Linked DNA regions of Homo sapiens. The protein of the gene in region 1 purifies or fractionates together with the protein of each later gene. This does not show direct contact. Each region holds a gene or a part of one and is shown in the gene's direction. Other genes may lie near its edges.

Evidence for each region.
Region 2: the proteins of PSAT1 (region 1) and MPRIP purify together in Homo sapiens (affinity purification with mass spectrometry; 2 studies listed by BioGRID and IntAct, with this or other methods). This does not show direct contact.

The regions. Positions count from the first base shown.
Region 1 is NC_000009.12:78,311,993-78,322,734, forward strand, and holds part of PSAT1 (phosphoserine aminotransferase), read left to right. Parts: intron 1-5,683; coding exon 5,684-5,812; intron 5,813-10,742. UniProt on the Homo sapiens protein: Involved in L-serine biosynthesis via the phosphorylated pathway, a three-step pathway converting the glycolytic intermediate 3-phospho-D-glycerate into L-serine.
Region 2 is NC_000017.11:17,162,118-17,172,859, forward strand, and holds part of MPRIP (myosin phosphatase Rho-interacting protein), read left to right. Parts: intron 1-1,991; coding exon 1,992-5,798; intron 5,799-9,600; coding exon 9,601-9,748; intron 9,749-10,580; coding exon 10,581-10,698; intron 10,699-10,742. UniProt on the Homo sapiens protein: Targets myosin phosphatase to the actin cytoskeleton. Required for the regulation of the actin cytoskeleton by RhoA and ROCK1.

The DNA.
Region 1 (10,742 bases):
CAGAACTTTGTATCACATAGTAGAGTTCTTGAAAAGGCCTCACTTTTGAAAAGACGCCTTTTTTTTTTTTTCCCCACAGAGTCTAATGACCATAGGCCCTGGGAACTTTGATTTAATTGTGCTGGATAAAACTGCCTTCAAATCGTTGCTCCGTAGCCCTGAGTGATGAACTAGAGTGGAATAAAGAACACACTGCTGTTCTCTTTAACCCTTCAGTAGAACACACTAACCCCAATTAGTGCATAGAGAAAAAGATCCCTAAACTTCCCTTCTGACTGCACAAAATATTTTTTACTTACCATGACTAACTGAATACACAAGCATACGTTTGTTTTAGCTGCAGTATGAGGTGAAGTAACTAATAAAAATACAAAACAAATAGACCATTAATCTTAGGCCACCTGTTAAAAGAATGAGAACAGGCCAGGCGCAGTGGCTCATGTCTGTAATCCCAGCACTTTGGGAGGTCGAGGCAGGTGGATCACCTGAGGTCGGGAGTTCGAGACCACCCTGACCAACATGGACAAACCCCGTCTCTACTAAAAATACAAAAATTAGCCAGGCATGGTGGCACATGCCTGTAATCCAAGCTACTCGGGAGGCTGAAGCAGGAGAATCACTTGAATCCAGGGGGCAGAAGTTGCAGTGAGCCAAGATTGTGCCATTGCACTCCAGCCTGGGCAATAAGAGCAAAACTCCATCTCAAAAATAATAATAATAATAAATAAATAAAAGAATGGGAGCATGCAAATTAAGTTTGTGGGCCTGTTTGGAAGGCTTCACTGGTCCCAGACTACCTTCTCCCAGTGGGATGGGGATGCCTGGAATCCTGGAATTCACAGAGGGGTGTGTAGTGGAGCCAGTTTTGGGAGCTTTCCTCTGGGAAAAGTGCTCAACTCAGTGGCTACATTCACCGATTCCTGAGAAAACTGTGCCATAACATCAACTTCAGAACCTCATCTGCAGAGCTGGAGTCTTAGAACAGCCAGGGAGAGTTTTCCAGGGGACTTTCTGGTGTCCTTTTCTAAGCCCTGGTGCACAGGGACTATTTTGTATTGCTTTAAAAAATTTATAACAGTGATATACTCTTAGGCTGGGTGTGGTGGCTCACGCCTGTAATCCCAGCACTTCAGGAGGCCAAGGCGGGCAGATCACCTGAGGTCAGGAGTTCGAGACCAGCCTGGCCAACATGGTGAAACCCTGTCTCTACTAAAAATACAAAAATTACCCGGGCGTAGTGGCGTGCACCTGTAATCCCAGCTACTCTGGAAGCTGAGGCGGGAGATCACTTGAACCTGGGAGGCGGAAGTTGCAGTGAGCTGAGATCGTGCCACTGCACTCCAGCCGGGGTGACAGCAAAACTCTGCCTCAAAAAACAAACAAAGAAACAAAGAAACAAACAGTAACATACTCTTAGCAAAGACTTGCAGGTGGGCAGAGTCACCAGGGTAGCCACTGTTCACTGCTTGCTTTGTATCCTAACAGACTCTTAACTGGGCATATGCAAATATACAGAGTCATATATTTAATCATGCAAATGGAACTTGAACTTTACCATACAAATTGTTCTGTGAATTCTATTTTTCCACTCCACAATATACCATGGGCATTCTGCTATGTCAGCTCAAATGCCTATTTTTATTTTTTACTTTTAAATTTTATTTTTGTTAGAGACAGGGTCTTGCTCTGTTGTGCAGGCTGGAGTGCAGCAGTGTGATGATAGCTCTCAGAAACCGCAAACTCGTAGGCTCAAGTGATCCTCCCACCTCAGCCTCCTAAGTAGCTAGGACTACAGGCAAGTGCCACCATGCCTGGCTACATTAAAAAAAAAATTTATGGCGACAGGGTCTCAATATGTTGTCCAGGCTGGTCTCAAACTCCTGGCCTCAAGCTGTCCTCCCACACTGGCCGTCCAAAGTGTTGGGATTACAGGCATGAGCCACCACACCTGGCCCTTTTTTGTTTTAAAATATATATGGTGTCCTGTAGAATGGACATACCTCGATTTATTTAATCATTTAATAGGCAGAGTTAGGAACCCTATCCTGTGTGTTTGCAGGTGGCATTTTAGAAATGAAGGCATAAGTCTTAAAAATGTCACACTGGTAGTGGGAAGAATTGAGACCACTCTATAAGCTGTGTAAGCGTTTTAGAGCCCTTGTGTTTTCAAGATTTTAGACGGTATGGGAGTTGAAACATGAGTTAATAAAGAACTGGAAGCCACGAGGGTCCTGTGTTAAGTAGAGCCACAGGGGCTAGACATCAGTGCTCTGCAGAGGGCTGGGTGGGAGGGGAGGCAGGACCTCCTATCCTGTGTTAAGTAGAGTCACAGGGGCTAGACATCAGTGCTCTGCAGAGGGCTGGGTGGGAGGGGAGGCAGGACCTCTTATCCTGTGTTAAGTAGAGCCACAGGGGCTAGACATCAGTGCTCTGCAGAGGGCTGGGTGGGAGGGGAGGCAGGACCTCCTATCTTGTGTTAAGTAGAGTCACAGGGGCTAGACATCAGTGCTCTGCAGAGGGCTGGGTGGGAGGGGAGGCAGGACCTCCTATCCCAGGGATGTCTTCAGTCTTCAGGACAGCTTGCTTGCTTCTGAGTTGTCTGCCTCTTGTTTAGGCTTCATAGAGCCAAGTTATGGGTGCTGGCTCCAGGCAGCCCCTAAAAGTGGGTGAGCTTTCTGCTGGCCTTGCCTCCTCAGATCCCATTAAGAAAGCCAGAGATCATGGGCGGCGAGTGTGAGCACAGCAGTCAGCTAGGGGTTCAGGCGTCGGTACTGAGGTCTGGCTAGGACGGTGGACCTGACATGGGCCTTGCTGCACTTTGGATTTAGACAAACCAAATCCACAGTGCAGCAAGGGCCCATGTCAGCTTTGAAACCCTGGGCTAACACAGAGCTTCAGGCAAAAGGGAAGCTTGGTCACCTGGAAGTATTGTTGGTGACCTGGGCTCTGCTTGGATTCAATCACATGGCAGGGTGTGTTTCTGTGGTTCTGTGTGGAGGTGGGGGGTGAACAGGCTGCAGGTGTGGGAGAGGAGCAGTTGGAAGTGAAGTGGGAATTGCAGAGCATCTGATGAACAGAGGGCTGGGCAGCCTCGTGTCTGGAATGCACACCCACGTGCATGTGTGCTGTGTGCTGGACTTGGCCACTGTCACTGGTGTGTGGTGATAGCTCTGCAGTCCCACTCGCAGGGGAGCTAGTGGCTGGAGCCCTGCAGCCCCTGGCAAAGCAGAGGGCCTGCATACTTGTGGGAAGAGCTTGCATTCTTGGAGTCAGACAGGCTAGAGTTGGAGTCCTGGCTTTAAGCTGCTTGCCAGATGACTTGAGGCAAAGTTAACCTCTCTGAGCCTCAGTTTCCTCATCTGGAAAATGGGATGACGGTGGCTCTAACCCGAGGATTATTGTGATCAATAAAGATAGGCTGAGGCCACAGTAGACTTCAGGAAGTACTCATTCCCTTCTCTTACTTTCTCTCTTCTGTCTCTTTTGTCCCTCTGACTTCTTGGACGTTAGCCAGAGAGCTACCGCTGAGGCTGTGGATATTCTCAGGGGCTGTTTCCTCTTCCTCCCTGCCTTCCCTTTCTGCCAGCAGCCACTCTTGCTCTTTCTTCCCAGTGCTGTCTGGGGAGGTAGGCTGGGGAAGCTTCAGGAGAGGTTGTTGGATGTTTGTGGCTGCTGGCTGCTCCCTGCCTAAGGCCCCTCTGGGCAGCCCGGTGTTGGCTTTTGCCAACATGAGCTGGCATGAGCCACTGCACCCAGGCCTTGGGTCCCACTTGAGACAGTGAATGAGCCAGTTGGTATAGGGGGCTTCCCTGTGACAAGCTGCTGGCTGTTAGAGCATTTTCCAGACCCCATAATGTCCCCTCCTGTTAATAAAGGAGGAAGCAGCTGGGTATCCCCACCCTAGATCTTAGCTGAGCATTGACTCCCAGTAAATTTTTGCACAATTCCCATAGGGGATCTTTGATTCACACCTCTGGAGAGGGCATAGTTGGCAGCTGACCTCCAGACTCCCAGCTCAAGGGAGATGGTGTCTTCCCTGGGCGACCTCTCCTCCTGTGCCCTGAGCTTTTACTGAGTACACGTGGAGCCTTTAGCACCTTCTTAAGGAGAGGGGTTTTCAGACTGGGGAAAACCATGCACCGCTCCTCAGTGTTTCATATTTTCAGCTTAAGTTTGAAGGGACTACTGACTGCCATTTGTGTGGCCCACCTGCCACGTGCCAGGCCCTGTGCTAAGCGTTGGTCTGGCAGGAAGAAGTTGAAATACTTGGTTCAGAAAGGGATGGTCCTGAGCTGCGGGAAGGGCCCAGGTGCAGCTGGACTTCCTGGAACCAGGGACACAAATCCTCCTCCATCTGCTCTCCACTTCTGATCCTGGCTTCTCTCAGCGGGAATGTTGGCTTCATTTTCAGATGGGCCTTCTTCAGATGTTTCCTAGAAACATGATCCCCTAGGGCTCTCATCTCCTGTCTCACAGTTGCACTAATATTCTGCCGCTTTTTCTGCTCTCCCCACTCTTTCTCCCCACACCCAATTCAGAAAATCTCAGGGAAGGCCCTGATTGGCCCAGTTAGGTCCTATGCCGAACTCTGAGACCAGGGAGCCAAGGGGCCTTGCTGGACCTGCATACTGGCTGGAGGGTGGAGTTGGGAAGAGCAGGGTGGATAAAATGCCAGGTGTCCACCACAGGTAGGTGGATCTCCCGGTTCCAGATGGGAAAACCGAGGTGACTAATTCTGGGTAGTCTGTTAGTGAGTGGCTGCCCTACAATGGGAGTCAGGACTGGGAGGGGGAGCCCGTCCTTTTAACCCCTCGGCCACAGTGCTCTCTGCTGGCTGGAAGGCACTGTGCTAAGGATGTGGGTAGAAAAGATGAACAGCGTGGGCTTCTAGCCTTCCAAGACCACAGAGGCCAAACAACAGGCACACAGAAACTTAAAAGAGCAAGTGGAAAAAAACTATGCAGGTAATATGGGCAAGGCGCTCTGGGAGTTCAGGAAGTGAAGAGCTCGCTCTGGGTAGGGGTGGGATTGGGGTCTGCTGATGCCTTCTGGTGGAGATAAGGAAGTGTGTTCTGGCTCTCAAGAAGAGTTTACATTAGGGCTTAAGCTGGACAAGGAGGGACTGATATGATGTTTAGTGAAAAATCTGATTAAACCTTTTTCTGAATGGCCCTCAGGGATCTAGAATTGGGTTGACCCTAGTCCTTGCTTGATGACATGCTCTTGTTCACATGGGCCCTGCTTTTGTCTTGTGTATTTTCTTTCTTTATTTTTTTTGGAGACAGGATCTCGCTCTGTCACCCAGGCTAGAGTGCATTGGTGTGATCATAGCTCACTGCAGCCTCGAACCCCTGGGCTCAAGCATTCCTCCCTGCTCTGCCTCCCAAGTAGCTGGGACTATAGGCACATGCTATCACACCCAACTAATTTTTCAATTTTTATGGAGACGGGTCTTGCTATGTTGCCTAGGCTGCTTTCCAACTCCTGGCTTCAAGCGATCCTTCGGCCTCGGCCTTCCAAAGTGTTGGGATTACGGGCGTGAGCCACTGCATTTGACTATCTTGTCTATTTCAAATAATGTGTTTAAGTCTGTTTTAATGCACCTTCAACAGCAGTTTGCTTGAATATAGTTCTACTTTTGCAAAGATGAGCTAAACGGATTTTTTAAAAATCTTCATTTTAGCATCTACGTCATGGGCTTGGTTCTGGAGTGGATTAAAAACAATGGAGGTGCCGCGGCCATGGAGAAGCTTAGCTCCATCAAATCTCAAACAATTTATGAGATTATTGATAATTCTCAAGGATTCTACGTGTAAGTCAATGGATTTTATCTCCTATTTTGCCTCTTGTGAATTTAAAACTGTGTATATACTGTGTACCTTTGAAAAGTGGACATATTCACCTTTCTCTGAGACATTAAAATACTGGTGAGTGTGTGTGGTCCTGGGCCCCATGAGCAGGGGAGTGGGTGGTGAGTTCTTCCCTCCTGTACCTCACCCTGGGGCTCTCAGGCTTTGGGACCTGTGTCCCAGTGGGTGGTGATGTTTCTCACACCAAAGACATCGCCCTGGGGAAGAATCTCAGTTCACTCCCTGGGGTAGGTCCCGTCTACTCCCTCCTTTGTATATCTTCTGGGAAAAAAACAAATGTACTTTCTGAAATGTGTCAATTTAAGGACTCCTGTTAGCGATCTTTGGGACAAATACTCCTGTCCTCCTCTTCTGCGTTATTTCCCTTTTTAAGAAAATTCACTCCTTTCCTTATTATAAGACAGATGCTGTTATCCCAGAGTCTGTGAATGGAATTGGCTTTGGCATGGGCTGACTCCAGTTTAAATATTCCCATGAACAAATGATTAATGAGTATGTCTTAACCACTGCCCCTGCACCTGGGAATTCTGCAGAAAATGTCTGGGTCTTGTATTAGTTTCCTGGGGCTGGTGTAACAAAGTACTACAGACTTAGTGGCTCAAAACATCAGAAAACTGATTCTCACTCTTCTGGGGCCAGAAGTTCAAAATCAAAATGTCAGCAGGGTTTTGGTCCCTCCAGAGAGCCATGCCTTGCCTCCTTTAGATTCTAGTGGCTCAGGGTGGTCCTTGATTTGTGGCTGCATCACTCCAGCCTCCACATCTGTCTTCACATGGCCTTCTTTCTGCCGTGTCTTCCCTTCTGTCTCTTAAAAAGAGAGGTCTTTGGATTTAGGGCCTGTCCAGATAATCCAGGATCATCTCATCTCGAGATCCTTCACATAATGACATCTGCAAAGTCCTTTTTTTCCAAATAGGTCATATTCACAGATTCTGGGGGTTAGGACATGCGCATACCTTTTCAGGGTCACCATTCAATCCACAACAATAGGCCCTTCACCAAAATGCCAGATGGGAAGCACCTAGTGCGGTGCCTTGGATGCAGAGAAGTGTAACAGGTGGTATCTTCATTTGCTTTTCCCTTTCCCTTAAGGTGGTTACAGGTATACAAAGACCAGACTTCCTGCTGTGTACATGTATGTGCGCCTACACATATACATAAATGCTTAAACTCACCAAACTGAGAACCCCCTTCTTAGTGGCCATTGCTCTTTGGGGTTCAGTCTATAGTAACAAAAATATCTGCTTGATGGTAAGTTGGAAATTTGCCCTCTCTCAGATAATTCAGTGGCCACATGGGACCGACAAAACGATGCCTCTGTCCTAACTTAGGATTGTACTTTTTAGCCAAGACTTAACTAACACATCTCCATAACCACCCATGGGCGGGCAGTGCTGGTGTACTTTTTGGATGGCATGCTGCTGTCACCTTTGTTCTTGCAATGCTTGTTGCCTGTTTCTGTGAGCTCTTGACATGCAGTGGCCCTCCTCCAGCTGCAAGCCCAGGGGGAGTTAGGCTTGGCGGGATGCCTTGGCCTTTGGGCTCCTTTCCCAGGCACCATCTCAGGGAAGGGGTACACACTCTGCATTACTGCCTGTTCTCTGGTTCTGTGCAACAGAGAAGCAAGTGCAGGCTGGGGGCTCAGTGCTGGGGAAGCTTCCACACTAGACCTTGATGTGTGAGTTTGGAGGCCAGGATACCCTGCCTGTGCTCACTGAAGCCATTTAAAGTGCACGATCAGCAGTAGGTATCCAAAGATTTCATAGCCAAGGGCTAAAGAATGTGGCATGAGCCTGGAAAAGGGGGATACTCTTTGGTTGGAGTGAAGAGAGGGCTTTTGCATGAGCTTATTATGAGCCCTGGTCATGAGTGGAATTAGGCAGAGAAGAGGGCAGAAGTACTTTTAGAAAGGTTAGAATCATCCCCGCAAAGGCACTGAGGGAAGAGTGTACAGTGTGTTTGGGGAGCAGAACATGGGCTGCTTGAAGGGCATGGTTTATGCTGGGATTGGGAAGAAGGTCCGTGGAAGTGTGTGAGGGCGTGTTTAGTCCACCTATTTATTCATTCATTCATCTACTCACCCACCCATCCACCCACCTACCCATCTATCCATCCACTCATTCACTCATTCATTCATTCATCCATCTGTCTACCCATTCATCTATACATTCATCCACTCATCCACTCATCCATCCACCATTGACCCACCCATCCATCTATTCATCTACCACCTGCCTACCTATCCATCCATCTACCCACTCACTCATCCATCTATCCATCCATTACCCACCCATCCTTCCACCCACCTATTCACCCATCTACCCATTCACCCATCCACCCATCTATCCACCCGCCCATTCATTCACCCATCCACTCATCCAGACATCCATCTGTCCACCCATTCATCCATCCATCCATTCATCCATCCACTCACCTACCCATCCACTCATCCATCAATCTTCCATCCATCCATCTATCCATCCATCCATCCATCCATCTGCCCACCCATCCATCCATTCACCCACCCATCCACACACCCACCTATCTATCCATCTACCTACACACCCACCCATCCATCTATCCATCCATCACCCACCCATCTATTCATTCACCCTTCCACCTATCTACCCATCTATCTATCCATCCATCCATCCATCCACTCATTCATCCACCCGCCCACCCACTCATCTGTCCATTCACCCTTCCACCTATCCGCCCATCTATCTACCCACTTGTCCATCCATCCATCCATCCACTCATCCATTCTCCCACCCACCCATCCACCCACCCACCCATCCATCTATCCATCTGTCCATCCATCCAACCGTCCATCCATCCATAAAATGGCTCCTGAGGACCTGCTCTGTACACTAGCCTTGTTCTAGGCTCCTGGAAGACCGAGAAGAATAAATCATCTTCCCTGGCTCCCTAAAAAGTGCTGAGAACCTGAATGTGAGTAAAAGCACTTGGTGGGTATAGTGGACGGGAGACCAATTTTTCTATTAGCTTTTAGCTCTATACATTTCTCAGGAGATGTGTAGACATGATGTTAGAGGACAGAAAGAACGGTGATACCACTGGGAAAAAAATTAAGGGCATCAGGAACAAAATAAGAAAGCATAGAAGGAATTCTGGGACTCTCCTGAATCCCCCCCCGCCACGCCTAGGTCCTTTAACTCCAAGCACTAAACCTGGGCCTCTCCCAGAAGGCAGCCTGCCAAACTAATGTGGCAGGCAGGTCATCTCCTGGGCAGGTCATCTCCTGGGGAATCTGGTCATCCTTCACACCCAGAGCTCTTCACTCATTTCTGAACTGCCTTGACCCAGGACTTCCAGTCCTTTTAAGAATAAACCTCTTTCTAGGAACTCCCACCACCCCCTCAGTTGCCTGCCTGGAAAGCGTCATCCCAGGCACTTGGTGTTCTGTGGGACCTTGTTACTGGAGTAGAGAGGAGGCTGTACTCTGTCTCTCCTCTGTTTATAGCTGGAGACTCCCAGGCTGTGCCTGAACTCACTTAGATTTTCAGGAAATTCTTCTTTTCTTTGGAACTATGGAAATAGTTGAGCAACATGGCCCCATGGGAGGTGGCCACTTTTAAAGAGGAATACCTAGAATTAGAATTTGCAATTTACCACCACCTTTGCTCCTCATTTTTGTCTCTGAGAAGATGCACCCCCTCCCCACTTCCATGCCCCCTGACTCGTAAACCAGCTCCTTAACATAGTTCCAGGTTGTTTGCTGGGGGTTTCACCAGCCCTGCCAGTGACCTTGGCAGGGAATTCTGGGACTAGATAAGACAACCATCGAAGCCTCCAAGTTGATTCCATAGCCCAGTCACCCACACTGTGCTGACTGACCCCATGTTGAGCCCACGTGGGCCGTTTAGCACCTTGGGCTTAGAAGCCCCATTTTGCCACGGTGGTGCGTGTGACCTCGTGCAAATGACCTAACTGCTCTAAGCCACAGTTTTCTCATCTGTACAATGGAGGTAATGATACATACTTCTTAAAATTGTCAAGAGAATTAAAAGGAAATGCTTCTGAATCAAGAATATATAATATAAGGATTGAGAGCATTTTTACATTAAGGATTGAGGACTCTTGTGCTGGTTAATTTGTATAAAGTGCTAGAAACAGTGGTTGGCACACAGGAAGCATTCCTTGCATGTTAGCTCTTAATATCATTATTTGTGGTTATTGTTATATAAAGCAATTATGATATTCCTGACACACAGTGCTTATATAAGCTTATGTAATATAATTAATTATATAAGTATATAATATATATTAATTTTATTATATAAGGATGTCCAAGTGACAGATTCCATGTCTGGATCTGAGGTCACCTTTATCACCTTATGTGGGTACCAGGCCTTAGGAAAGAGAAGGAGGCACGTGATGGGTCTAGCGAAGACCCTAAAATAAAATGAAGCAGGCAGAGTCCTAGGCACCTTACACATGTGAATGCATTTTGTTGTCATCACAACCCTGTGAAGTAGACATTGAGCCTATGCAGCAGAAGCACAGATAGGACAAGGATGCAGCTGGAAAGTGGGACCAGCCAGGCTACGAACATGGGGGTGGAAGGCTCATTCCAGAACCTCTGCTGCTGTCTATGTCCAGGAGTGCAGAAGGCCTTAAACATACAACTCAAGCTATAAAGTAAAAGAATGACGTATTTAATTACATGAAAATTTTAAAATTTTATATGGCTTAAGACATCATAAACAGAATCAAAAATGACAGAATGAGAAAGATTTTGTAGTATATTAAACATAAAGGTTACTATCCTTAATTTAGGCAAGAACCCACAGATGAATGAAAAAGGATAAGGAAATAAAAGTGGGGGTGTGGTGGTTGCTAACAGTATGA
Region 2 (10,742 bases), on another chromosome or scaffold:
GGTACCAGAACAGGGAGCCTAAGTTCTCGGCAAAGGCTGAGGGTATAACATTAGAATCAAGGTCCTAGGTTCAAGACTTGGCCCTGCTACTGACCCCCAAAGCAAGTGCATGTGTCCCCTCCTCTACAGCGGCAGTCTGCTGCCTGTGTAGACTTAGACCCAGTGATCCCTGAGGGCCCTTCCGGCTCTTAGACCCCGAGTCTCTGTCACGTATTGTCTACATTTGCAGACCGCAGTGCGCTGACCTTGGTCTGAGTTGTCCCAGGCAGCAGATGGAACAGGGGCACTCAGCTGGCCTCTGACCATAGTCTGCCTCTTTGCAGACTCTCTGCTGTTTCTTCTCCTGTGTGCTCCCTGGGCCTTCTCTTTCTTTCTGCCCCACATGCCCTAGACTCTCCTCTCCAGCCTCTTCTGCCATAGTCATTGCCATGCCCTGTTCAGACCTGGTGAACAGGGCCTCCCTGTGGGCCTCCCTGCCAAGGTCATTTGCGCTTGCCCTCCAGGTTTGAGGAGCATCTTTTTAATTCTTGATTGGGCCTCATCCTATAAGAACTGGCTTCAAATCAGGTAGTAAAGATAAAAGTTCAGCATCCCAAATTCGAAAATCTGAAATGCTCCAAAATCCAAAACTGAACGCTGACATTATGCTGAAAGGAAATGCTCACTGGAGCATTTCAGATTTTGGATTTTTGGATTGGGGATGCTCACCCAGTAAGTAGAATGCAAATATTTTAAAATCCGAAACAGTTCTTGTCCCAAGTATTTTGGATAAGGGATACTCAACTTGTACTAAGCAGCGGACTTTGCACATTGCTAACCTAGGAACCTACCTCTGTCTAACTTGCATAATTGCATGAGCCTACACTGAAGCCCCTGTTGGTCAGCACTGGGCAAAGCTGGTCTTTAATACCTTTTCCCTAAGTCTAATAACCTGTGACTTCTCACCACCCTTTATGCTTTGGAAATGCTTTTAATCACGACTCAGAATGAGCAGGGGGTCTGTGGGGTTAAGGGTCAGGAGCCAGCTACTGGGGTGGGTGCTATACTAACTGCTGGGAGGAGCTTGCATGATTTGGACATTGAGTGTGAAGTGTAACTTGAACTTAACATAACTGAGTGTCACATCTGTGGCTTCCCCGGCCAGCAGACCGAGAGGGAGCCATAGGCAGGCCAGATTCTTAGGCTGGGCTCGGCTCACTCTTGTTTGTGTTGTTTTTCCCTATATTAATGAGTTCTGTCTCTGCATGCCTTTCAGTGTGGGGAGTTTTGTTTCATTTACGTTGTGTTTTGTTTTTGCATGCTTCACTTTTTCTTATTTTGAACTCCACAAAGGTTTGTTTGTTTTGTTGATTATTGTATCTTACTCCATGGTTCCCGTTCCCCCCTCGTTTTGACTTCTTACAGGTAGAGATTAGTTCTTCCTGTTACTCTAGAGGACTGACTACACTTTCCACAGGAAAATGTTTGGATGTCACCTTGCTGACATCTCCCGAGTGTTACCTTCCTTCCTTCTCCTCCTGTCTTAGAAGGAAGTGGCATCATTTACCTACACCTTGTGTCCTGCGCTTGTTTAGGATTTGTTGTCAAGACTGCGTACTTTTTGTTTTGTGAAACAAACAGCTGCAGGTGCTGTGCTCCTCCCGCCTGTCCCTCTTCCTGGCGCTCTCTTGTCCTTTAGTCTTTGTTTTGCTTCTTAGTGTGTTCCATTATTCAGTTTTGTTTGGTTTATTTCTCCTAGAAGCTGTTTGGTTAAAGCTGTTTTCTGATGTTATTGTCCATGTTTTCTGTTTACCTGGAAGCAGCTACTTACTAAAAAAAAAAAAAAAGAAAATTTGTTGGATTTTTTTAATGGGAAAAAAAAATAAAGTTGTACAAAGGATAAAAGCCAAAGCCATCAAGGAGCTTTCTGTGGTTGTTCCTGGCCAGAGGTGTGACACTCAGAACTGGGAGGCCCGAGTGTTACTAACCAGTATTTAATCGGTTTTTTTAAGACTGAAGTGGCCGCCTCCCCATCGGGTGCCTGGCAGAGGCTCCATAGAGTCAACCAAGACCTTCAAAGTGAGCTTGAAGCCCAGTGCCAGCGCCAGGAGCTGATTACACACCAGATTCAGACCCTGAAGCGTAGCTATGGGGAGGCCAAGGACACGATCCGGCACCACGAGGCTGAGATCCGGAGCCTTCAGGCACGGCTCAGCAATGCGGCCGCTGAGCTAGCCATCAAGGAGCAGGCGCTGGCCAAGCTCAAGGGCGACCTGAAGCGGGAGCAGGGCCGGGTCCGCGAGCAGCTGGAGGAGCGGCAACACAGCGAGGCGGCGCTGAGCAGCCAGCTGAGGGCTAGCGAGCAGAAGCTCAAGAGTGCTGAGGCCCTGCTGCTGGAGAAGACGCAGGAGCTACGGGGCCTGGAGACACAGCAGGCGCTGCAGCGGGACCGGCAGAAGGAGGTCCAGAGGCTGCAGGAGCGCATTGCCGACCTCAGCCAGCAACTGGGCGCCAGTGAGCAGGCGCAGCGGCTGATGGAGGAGAAGCTGCAGAGAAACTATGAGCTGCTGCTGGAGAGCTGTGAGAAGGAGAAGCAGGCATTGCTGCAGAACCTAAAGGAAGTGGAAGACAAGGCCAGCGCCTATGAGGACCAGCTGCAGGGTCAGGCACAGCAGGTGGAGACCCTGCAGAAGGAGAAGCTGAGCGCCACTTTCGAGGGCAGTGAGCAGGTGCACCAGCTGGAGGAGCAGCTGGAGGCACGAGAGGCCAGCGTGCGCAGGCTCGCAGAGCACGTGCAGAGCCTCTGTGACGAGCGGGACCTCCTCAGACAGCGGTTCCAGGAGCTGACAGAGCGCGTGGCCACGTCCGACGAGGATGTGGCTGAGCTCCGGGAAAAGCTGAGGAGAAGAGAGGCTGACAACCAGAGCCTGGAGCACTCCTACCAGAGGGTCTCCAGCCAGCTGCAGAGCATGCACACTCTGCTGAGAGAGAAGGAGGAAGAGCTGGAGCGCATTAAGGAAGCACATGAGAAGGTTCTGGAGAAGAAGGAGCAGGACCTCAATGAGGCTTTGGTTAAAATGGTTGCCTTGGGGAGCAGCTTAGAGGAAACAGAAATTAAGCTCCAGGCAAAAGAAGAGATTTTAAGGAAATTTGCAAGTGAATCTCCAAAGGACATGGAAGAGCCACGGAGTACCCCTGAAGAGACAGAAAGGGATGGCACTTTGCTCCCAGGCCAACCAGTCCAAGCCACTAGGGCACCTCTAGGCCTCCCACACACAAGGCTCGAGGATGAGGACGAGGACCTGGGGGCTCCTCCGGGGGAAGAGTACGGTGATGGCAGCCCCAGTAGGGAAGACAGCATGGTGCCCCCAAAGTCAGTGGAAGTGCTTGACAGGGAGGGCCATCAGCAGGGCACAGCCAAACTCGACCAAGGGGCACCTGGTGTTAAAAGGCAAAGAATCCGGTTCTCCACAATCCAGTGCCAAAGATACATTCACCCCGAAGGGTCTGAGAAGACCTGGACCAGCAGCACATCTTCCGACACCAGCCAGGACCGGTCACCCTCGGAAGAAAGCATGTCCTCAGAGCCTGCACCCAGTGTACTGCCTGCAACTGGCGACTCTGACACGTACCTCTCCATCATCCACTCCCTGGAGACCAAGCTCTACGTCACAGAGGAAAAGCTCAAAGACGTGACCGTGAGGCTGGAGAGCCAGCAGGGTCAGAGCCGTGAGGCACTGCTCGCACTGCACCACCAGTGGGCGGGCACCGAGGCCCAGCTGCGTGAGCAGCTCCGCGCCAGCCTGCTCCAGGTTGGCGCACTGGCCTCCCAGCTGGAGCAGGAGAGGCAGGAGAGGGCCAGGAGGGTTGAAGGGCATGTTGGAGAGCTTGGGGACTTCCAGGTCAAGAATAGTCAGGCCCTGATGTGCCTGGAAAATTGCCGAGAACAACTGAGATCTCTGCCTAGGGCCAGCCAGGAGGATGAGCAGGACGCACGCGCAGCCTCCCTGGCCAGTGTGGAGAGTGCACTCGTCAGCGCCATCCAAGCCCTGCAGCACTGGCCGGCCCCAGCCCATGGCGGGGCCCGTGCACAGCTGGAGACAGGTGGCACCGAGGAGAATGGGAAGCCTGCCTCCCTGCAGCAGTGCTCCCAGTCTGAGTTGACAGAGCAGGAGCAGGTGAGGCTTCTTTCTGACCAGATTGCTCTGGAGGCCTCGCTGATCAGCCAGATAGCAGATTCCCTGAAGAACACAACATCAGATGTCTCCCGAATGCTCCATGAGATTTCTTGGTCAGGACAGCCACCGATGGAATCTGCTGGGGCCCCCGTAGACACCTGGGCCAGGAAGGTCCTAGTGGATGGTGAGTTCTGGAGCCAGGTTGAGTCTCTGAGGAAGCACTTGGGGACACTGGGAGGAGAGGCAGTCGGTGCCTCAGGAGACGGGCAGCAAAGCATCCCACAGGGCCTGGCCCCCATCCTGGCCAATGCCACATGGGTCAGGGCAGAGCTCAGCTTTGCCACACAGTCAGTGAGGGAGTCGTTCCACCGCAGGCTACAGAGCATCCAGGAGACCCTGCGGGGCACCCAGACGGCCCTGCGGCAGCACAAATGCCTGCTGAGGGAAATCCTGGGAGCCTACCAAACCCCAGACTTTGAAAGAGTGATGCAGCAGGTCTTGGAAGCCCTCAGGCTTCCAGCGGGCCATGAAGATGGTGTTCAGCTGTCCTGGGACCTGAGCCCCTTAGGAGAAGTCCTGGGCCGAGACTCAGACAGCTCTCAGGAGCCCTTCGATGTGTCTGACCAGAGCCCTGGGGCCTTTGTTGCTATTCAGGAGGAGCTTGCCCAGCAGCTGAAGGAGAAGGCCAGCCTCTTAGAGGAGATAGCGGCTGCCTTACCATCTCTGCCACCTGTGGAATCGCTGAGAGATTGCCAGAAGCTTCTCCAGGTGTCCCAGAGTCTCTCGTATAACACTTGTTTGGGAGGCCTCGGTCAGTATTCTTCATTGTTGGTTCAGGATGCCATTATTCAGGCCCAGGTTTGCTATGCGTCCTGCAGAATCCGGCTAGAATATGAGAAGGAGCTCCAGCTCTGCAAGGAGTCCTGGCAAACCCGGGAGCCCTCCTGCTCAGAGCAGGCACAGGCAGCCCGGGCCCTGAGGGAGGAGTATGAGGAGCTTCTCCGCAAGCAGAAGAGCGAGTACCTGGATGTGATCGCCATTGTTGAAAGGGAGAATGCAGAGCTCAAGGCCAAGGCCGCCCAGCTAGACCATCAGCAGCAGTGTCTGGAGGATGCAGAGAGCAAGCACAGCATGAGCATGTTCACCCTGCGGGGCAGGTATGAGGAGGAGATTCGGTGTGTGGTGGAGCAGCTGACCAGGACCGAGAGCACACTGCAGGCTGAGCGCAGCCGGGTCCTGAGCCAGCTGGATGCCTCGGTCAGAGACAGGCAGGACATGGAGAGGCATCATGGTGAGCAGATACAGACCCTGGAGGACAGGTTCCAGCTCAAGGTCCGGGAGCTGCAGACGATCCACGAGGAGGAGCTGAGGACCCTGCAGGAGCACTACTCGCAGAGCCTGAGGTGCCTTCAGGACACCCTCTGCCTCCACCAGGGGCCACACCCCAAGGCCCTGCCAGCCCCTGCCCCCAACTGGCAGGCCACCCAGGGAGAGGCTGACTCCATGACGGGGCTGAGGGAGCGCATCCAGGAGCTGGAGGCCCAGATGGATGTCATGCGGGAGGAGCTGGGACACAAGGACCTGGAGGGCGACGCGGCCACACTGCGTGAGAAGTACCAGAGGGACTTGGAGAGCCTTAAGGTCTTAACGCCCCATTCAATTTGCAGAGCAGATCTTCCTTGATAATGGGGTGGGTGTGGGGACGTCTGGCTCAGCTACCGTGCAGGCAGAATTGAGGGGATATGCTGCTGTCCCTCTACTTGCTAGCCATGGTGTGGTCTCAGCAGGGCCTGGGCCGCAGGCTTAGCCTCTTGTTCGGCATCCCCCAGTGTCCTCCACCAGGAGGAGAACTAGCAGGAGGGCCGCCAGGGTCCCTGGTGGGAGAGGAGCACGTAGTCTTCCCAGCACTTCCCTGCCTGCCTAATGCGGCCTCTCCGTGTTCCTGAGAGCAGCCCCCAATCCCCTTGCCAGCCTTGCCTCCTTCCTGCCCCTGCCCCGGGAACCCCGTCTGGCCCAGTCCCAGCCCAAATCTGAGGCAGCTGCCTGAGGACAGCCTTGTACTCACAGCAACACCCCGGAGAGCCAGGGCCCAGTTGGAGGGCAGTCTCCTCCTGATTGCCCTAGGAGAGCACAGTCGGGCGGAGGGTCCCTCTCTGGAACTGGCATTTGATGTGTGCTCTGGTGAGAAGAACTTTCCCACGGAGCACAGCCTCCAGCCACTCCTGTCCCCTTCCCCAGGACCTTTACAAGTAGATTTTCCCCAGAACTGTCCTGCATCCCCGCCCCTGAGGTCCTGGAGCACAAAGGCGAAATGCCAGGCCCTGGAGGTGGTGGTGGGCTGAGTGGAGGCCCAGCTGTCTGGCCCCACCCTTTGTAGCTGCAGGCCACACCCACCATGTGTGGCTGTCAAGCATCATCCCTTAGACTCAAAAGTTTACCATGATACCTGTGCCCTTATGTTCCTTCCACTCAGGAAGCTGCCCCAGTAAATGACTAGGATGACTAGGCCCCTCAAAAGCCATGTTCAGGTGGTGCCTTCCACGCTCATGTGGCAGAGCCAGGCGCGCACACAGCCAGCACCATTGTGCTGCAAGCTCCTGACTCCCAGGTGGCTGCCACTGCTCCTGCCTACACATCCTCACAGCCACTGTCTAGCAGGACACCTGTTTTTCCCAGCCCGTTACTCCTGTAGCTCTGAATGGAAACAGCAGCTCACATGTCACCTCTGTGTGACGGACTCGGCCCCACCCAGACACACAGGTGTGGTTGTCAGCGAGCACCTCAGGAGAACTGAGAAGCTCTTTTTCACCATTCTTTCCCCAAATCAGTCAAAACCTTTTAAAAACCATTATGAGTTGTGAGAAGGTTTCAACAGCTATGTTTTCAAAGTGTGTGTATATGATGGCACTGTGGTCAGTTCACCAAGAGCAGCACTGAGATGGGTGGATCCAGGTGCACCTTGAAAAGTTAATTGCACAAACCTTTGCTTTGACCCCAAATACGCTTGCTAGTGCCCTTCCCTGCAGCTTCCCAGACAATCAGCAGGGTCCATGGGGGCAGGGCCTGGGCACAGCAATGCCCTGCTTCCTGTCTGCATCCATAAGAGGCCCCTCCACACCGAGGCTGCTTTAGGTTAGCCAACCAGGTGCAGGGGAGGCCCCATGCAGGTGCCATTATACCAACAGTGAGCAAGAAATCAGAAAAAAGAGGACTGCCTTATGTTGAGAACTGACCAGAGATTGTGCTGGGCCAGTGTCACTAGGAGGGAGAAACAGATGATGCAGGTCGGGATGAGGCCCCTCCCAGGGGCTTGGACACTGTCCACTCCCTGCTGCCTTAGCTGCCGTTGCATAGTGTCCCCTCCTGTGCCTGGGAGCTTCTAGCCCAGGTGTGGTGTTCTCACCCACCCCTGCAGACTTACAGAACTTGTAAATAGACAGCACCTTGAGATTTCATCACTTTATGCAGATTTCCACTTGGGTCGTTGGGGACAGGGTCTTGGCCTAACAGCCGTCCTCTGACATCCACAGGCTCCCACCACACCACGATTGCAGTCATCGGGGAACTTCTTTTGGTGTCAGGAATGATTGGCTTAAATTAACATTTGTTTGCAAGATCAATTATTTTTTAGCATATAGTTTCTCTCCAAAGAAGCAACTAGGTCTTTAAAGATGTCCCAGTGCTTCTGTTAGATTTTTGACTCTTACCTGCATAATATTCCAAAGCACTCAGATCAAAATAAGACTTTTCCCAGCAAGTAGACTCAAAGAAAAAAAAAAAAGACTTAAAAGATCTATTAATACTAGTTGTGCTCGTTTTAGCAGCATATATACTAAAATTGGAATGATACAGAGAAGATTAGTATGGCCCCTTTACAAGGATGACACACAAATTCATGAAGTATTCCATATATATATATATTTTTTTTTTTTTTAATTAAAAAAGACCTATTAGTTAAATGTGTTAACTGAGAAGCCACATACAAACAGAAGCGAGTGGGAGGAAGAAAGAAGAGCTCAACCTTGGGGCCTGAGGACCAGGAGCTCCAGAGCTCCGAGCTCCTGCAGCCGTCCTGAGGTGTGAGGGTGGCAGAAAGAGACAGATGCTTCCAGGTGGAGCCGCTGGGAGAGGGGATGGGACGCCTAGTTAATAGTGGCAATAGCTGAGACATTCACCCAGAGCAGCACATAGGTTGCAGTCAAGTCCAGACTGACCACGAGTTTGGAAATACTGCCTGAGGCTCTCAGAGTTGGCCATCACCAAAAGTGGGCCCAGAGAAAAATGCCCAGGCATGCTGATAGGATTTCTTGGTATCCTTTCTTGAATCCACATGCAAGAAGATTAACCAAGTGGTGCAGGCTATCAGCCCAGAGTGGGGAAACCCCCACACTTGAATTTGGAATGGAATGTGGCCACGTTCTTCCAGTTTTTAAAACTCAGCGAGAGGCCCAGTCCCTTCTCTGAAGCAGACCACTTGAAGGATTTAGACAGAAAGTGTGTGCCTCCGTGCTCAAAATAGCTGCACACCCACCCTTCCCGGCAGCTGTGCAGCACGCTCACCTGCTTTGTTAGTGAGCACAGCTCTGATAACCAGGCCTGGGCTTCCTGGTGTGGCTTGCTCCCATCCTGGGGCATGCCTATGTCGCTCTAGGGAGGCACAGGAGAGTTTGGAAAGCAGGTCTCCTGTCATGTACTTGTTAGAGTTAGCAGAGGTGCTAAGTCATTGGTGCCCTTCTTTAAGAAAAGAGTAAGAAAGAAGACACAGGCTAGAAGGAAGGGGAGCCTGTAGCCTGATCTTACTCCCTCAGTCAACACCTGAGCATTAAGTGACCAGCTGGAGGTTGTCAGCTGGCTAGTGGCAGAGTCCCAACCCCCAGCTCCCAGAAGTGGACTCTATGTACCCCCAACCCACTGTGGGTTGAGAGGCTCCCAGCCCGGTGCCCGCCAGGCCACTCCCTATATGTGGAATGGCCTTGGTTCCCTCCAGCAGACAAGTCCCTCATCCCTGTTTTACGGGCCTTTCACCGTGTCCCTCCAGACCAGACACAGCCAGCCTCTGCCCACGTGCTCTCTCTTCCTTCCTGTGGGTCCCACCTGGCAGCAACGCAGGAAGGTCCAGGGTTGGCTGGTTTCCATTTCATAGCAGCCTGTCCCCACCTACCATACCAACTTCTCCCAGGAAGAAATGGGGCACAGTACAGTCACAGAAATAAGAGGTAGAGTTGACTGGTAACACCCTTTTCTGAATGCTCTGATGGCATTGCTGAGAATCCCCAGACAGCCCCAGGGATCCTGTTCAGGGCGCCCATGGTGGAGCAAGCTCAGTGAATGCCCAGTCACAGCTGGGCCTGGACAGGGTGGGATTCCTGGCTCCTTTATTTAAAAGGGCCCCCAACTTAGAGGTAAAGAAAGAAGTCGATGAAGTCCCTTTTGCATTTTGCAGGCCACGTGCGAGCGAGGGTTTGCAGCAATGGAAGAAACGCACCAGAAGAAGATTGAAGATCTCCAGAGGCAGCACCAGCGGGAGCTAGAGAAACTTCGAGAAGAGAAAGACCGCCTCCTAGCCGAGGAGACAGCGGCCACCATCTCAGGTTGGGGGGTGGGGTAACCCTGAGGGCAGGGTGGGTGGCCAGCTTTTTTTGAGCTAGACACACAACTCAGAGGAATGGCAGCCTTTAAATTGCCTTTTGGCTGAGATGTAAACTTCATTGTTGAAGGGTTCTTTGACTATTCACTCTGAGGCAAAGGCCAATTTTAGGTCCCTTTTGAGAGCTTGTAAACTGAGAGCGCACACTTCGACCCCTGACAGCCCCGTCGTGGCCGGCTGCACACAAGGAGCTGTCCCAACCTGTGACTTTCCAGTTCCAACAAGTAGACTGACCAGTGTCAGTCCAGCCAGTGACTTTCCCCCTGACAGACACCTGTCAACGTGGGACCACCTCTGGCCAGAATGCCCCTGCCGTCAGCGTGAAGATATGTAGCTTCACCGGCAGGTGGCCCTAAACAAGCACGTCCCCTCCGCCTTGTGCTGCCTTCCCTTTATGTAATCGCCACCTCAGTGGTTTGTTAATTTAGTTCCAAGGAAGAAAATACACCAGCACAAAAGCTTGCTTGTTTTATAAACTCATGTTGGAATTTAACAATGACATTTATTTAATCAGTTTGGTTTTCTTCTAACACCAAAAAAAAAGCCAAACGTGCATTCCTTCCAGGGGGAGTTCATGAAGAATTCTCCCAGCCTGCACCCACCTCAGAGAATTGGTTCATGAGGGGCCAGCCTGTCATGCAAAATCCAACTGCTGATTGACTAAGCAAGCATCAGCAGTGGCAGGCGCCATCCCATTGTGTGGAGCTCCCCACCCCCACCCCTGTCAGCAGGAAGGGCGTGGTCCCTCGGTGCTGAGGCCGTGTCCTTGCCTGCAGCCATCGAAGCCATGAAGAACGCCCACCGGGAGGAAATGGAGCGGGAGCTGGAGAAGAGCCAGCGGTCCCAGATCAGCAGCGTCAACTCGGATGTTGAGGCCCTGCGGCGCCAGTACCTGTAAGTGGCTGGGCCTGCCCATCTGCCCTTGGGAGGGCCCCTCT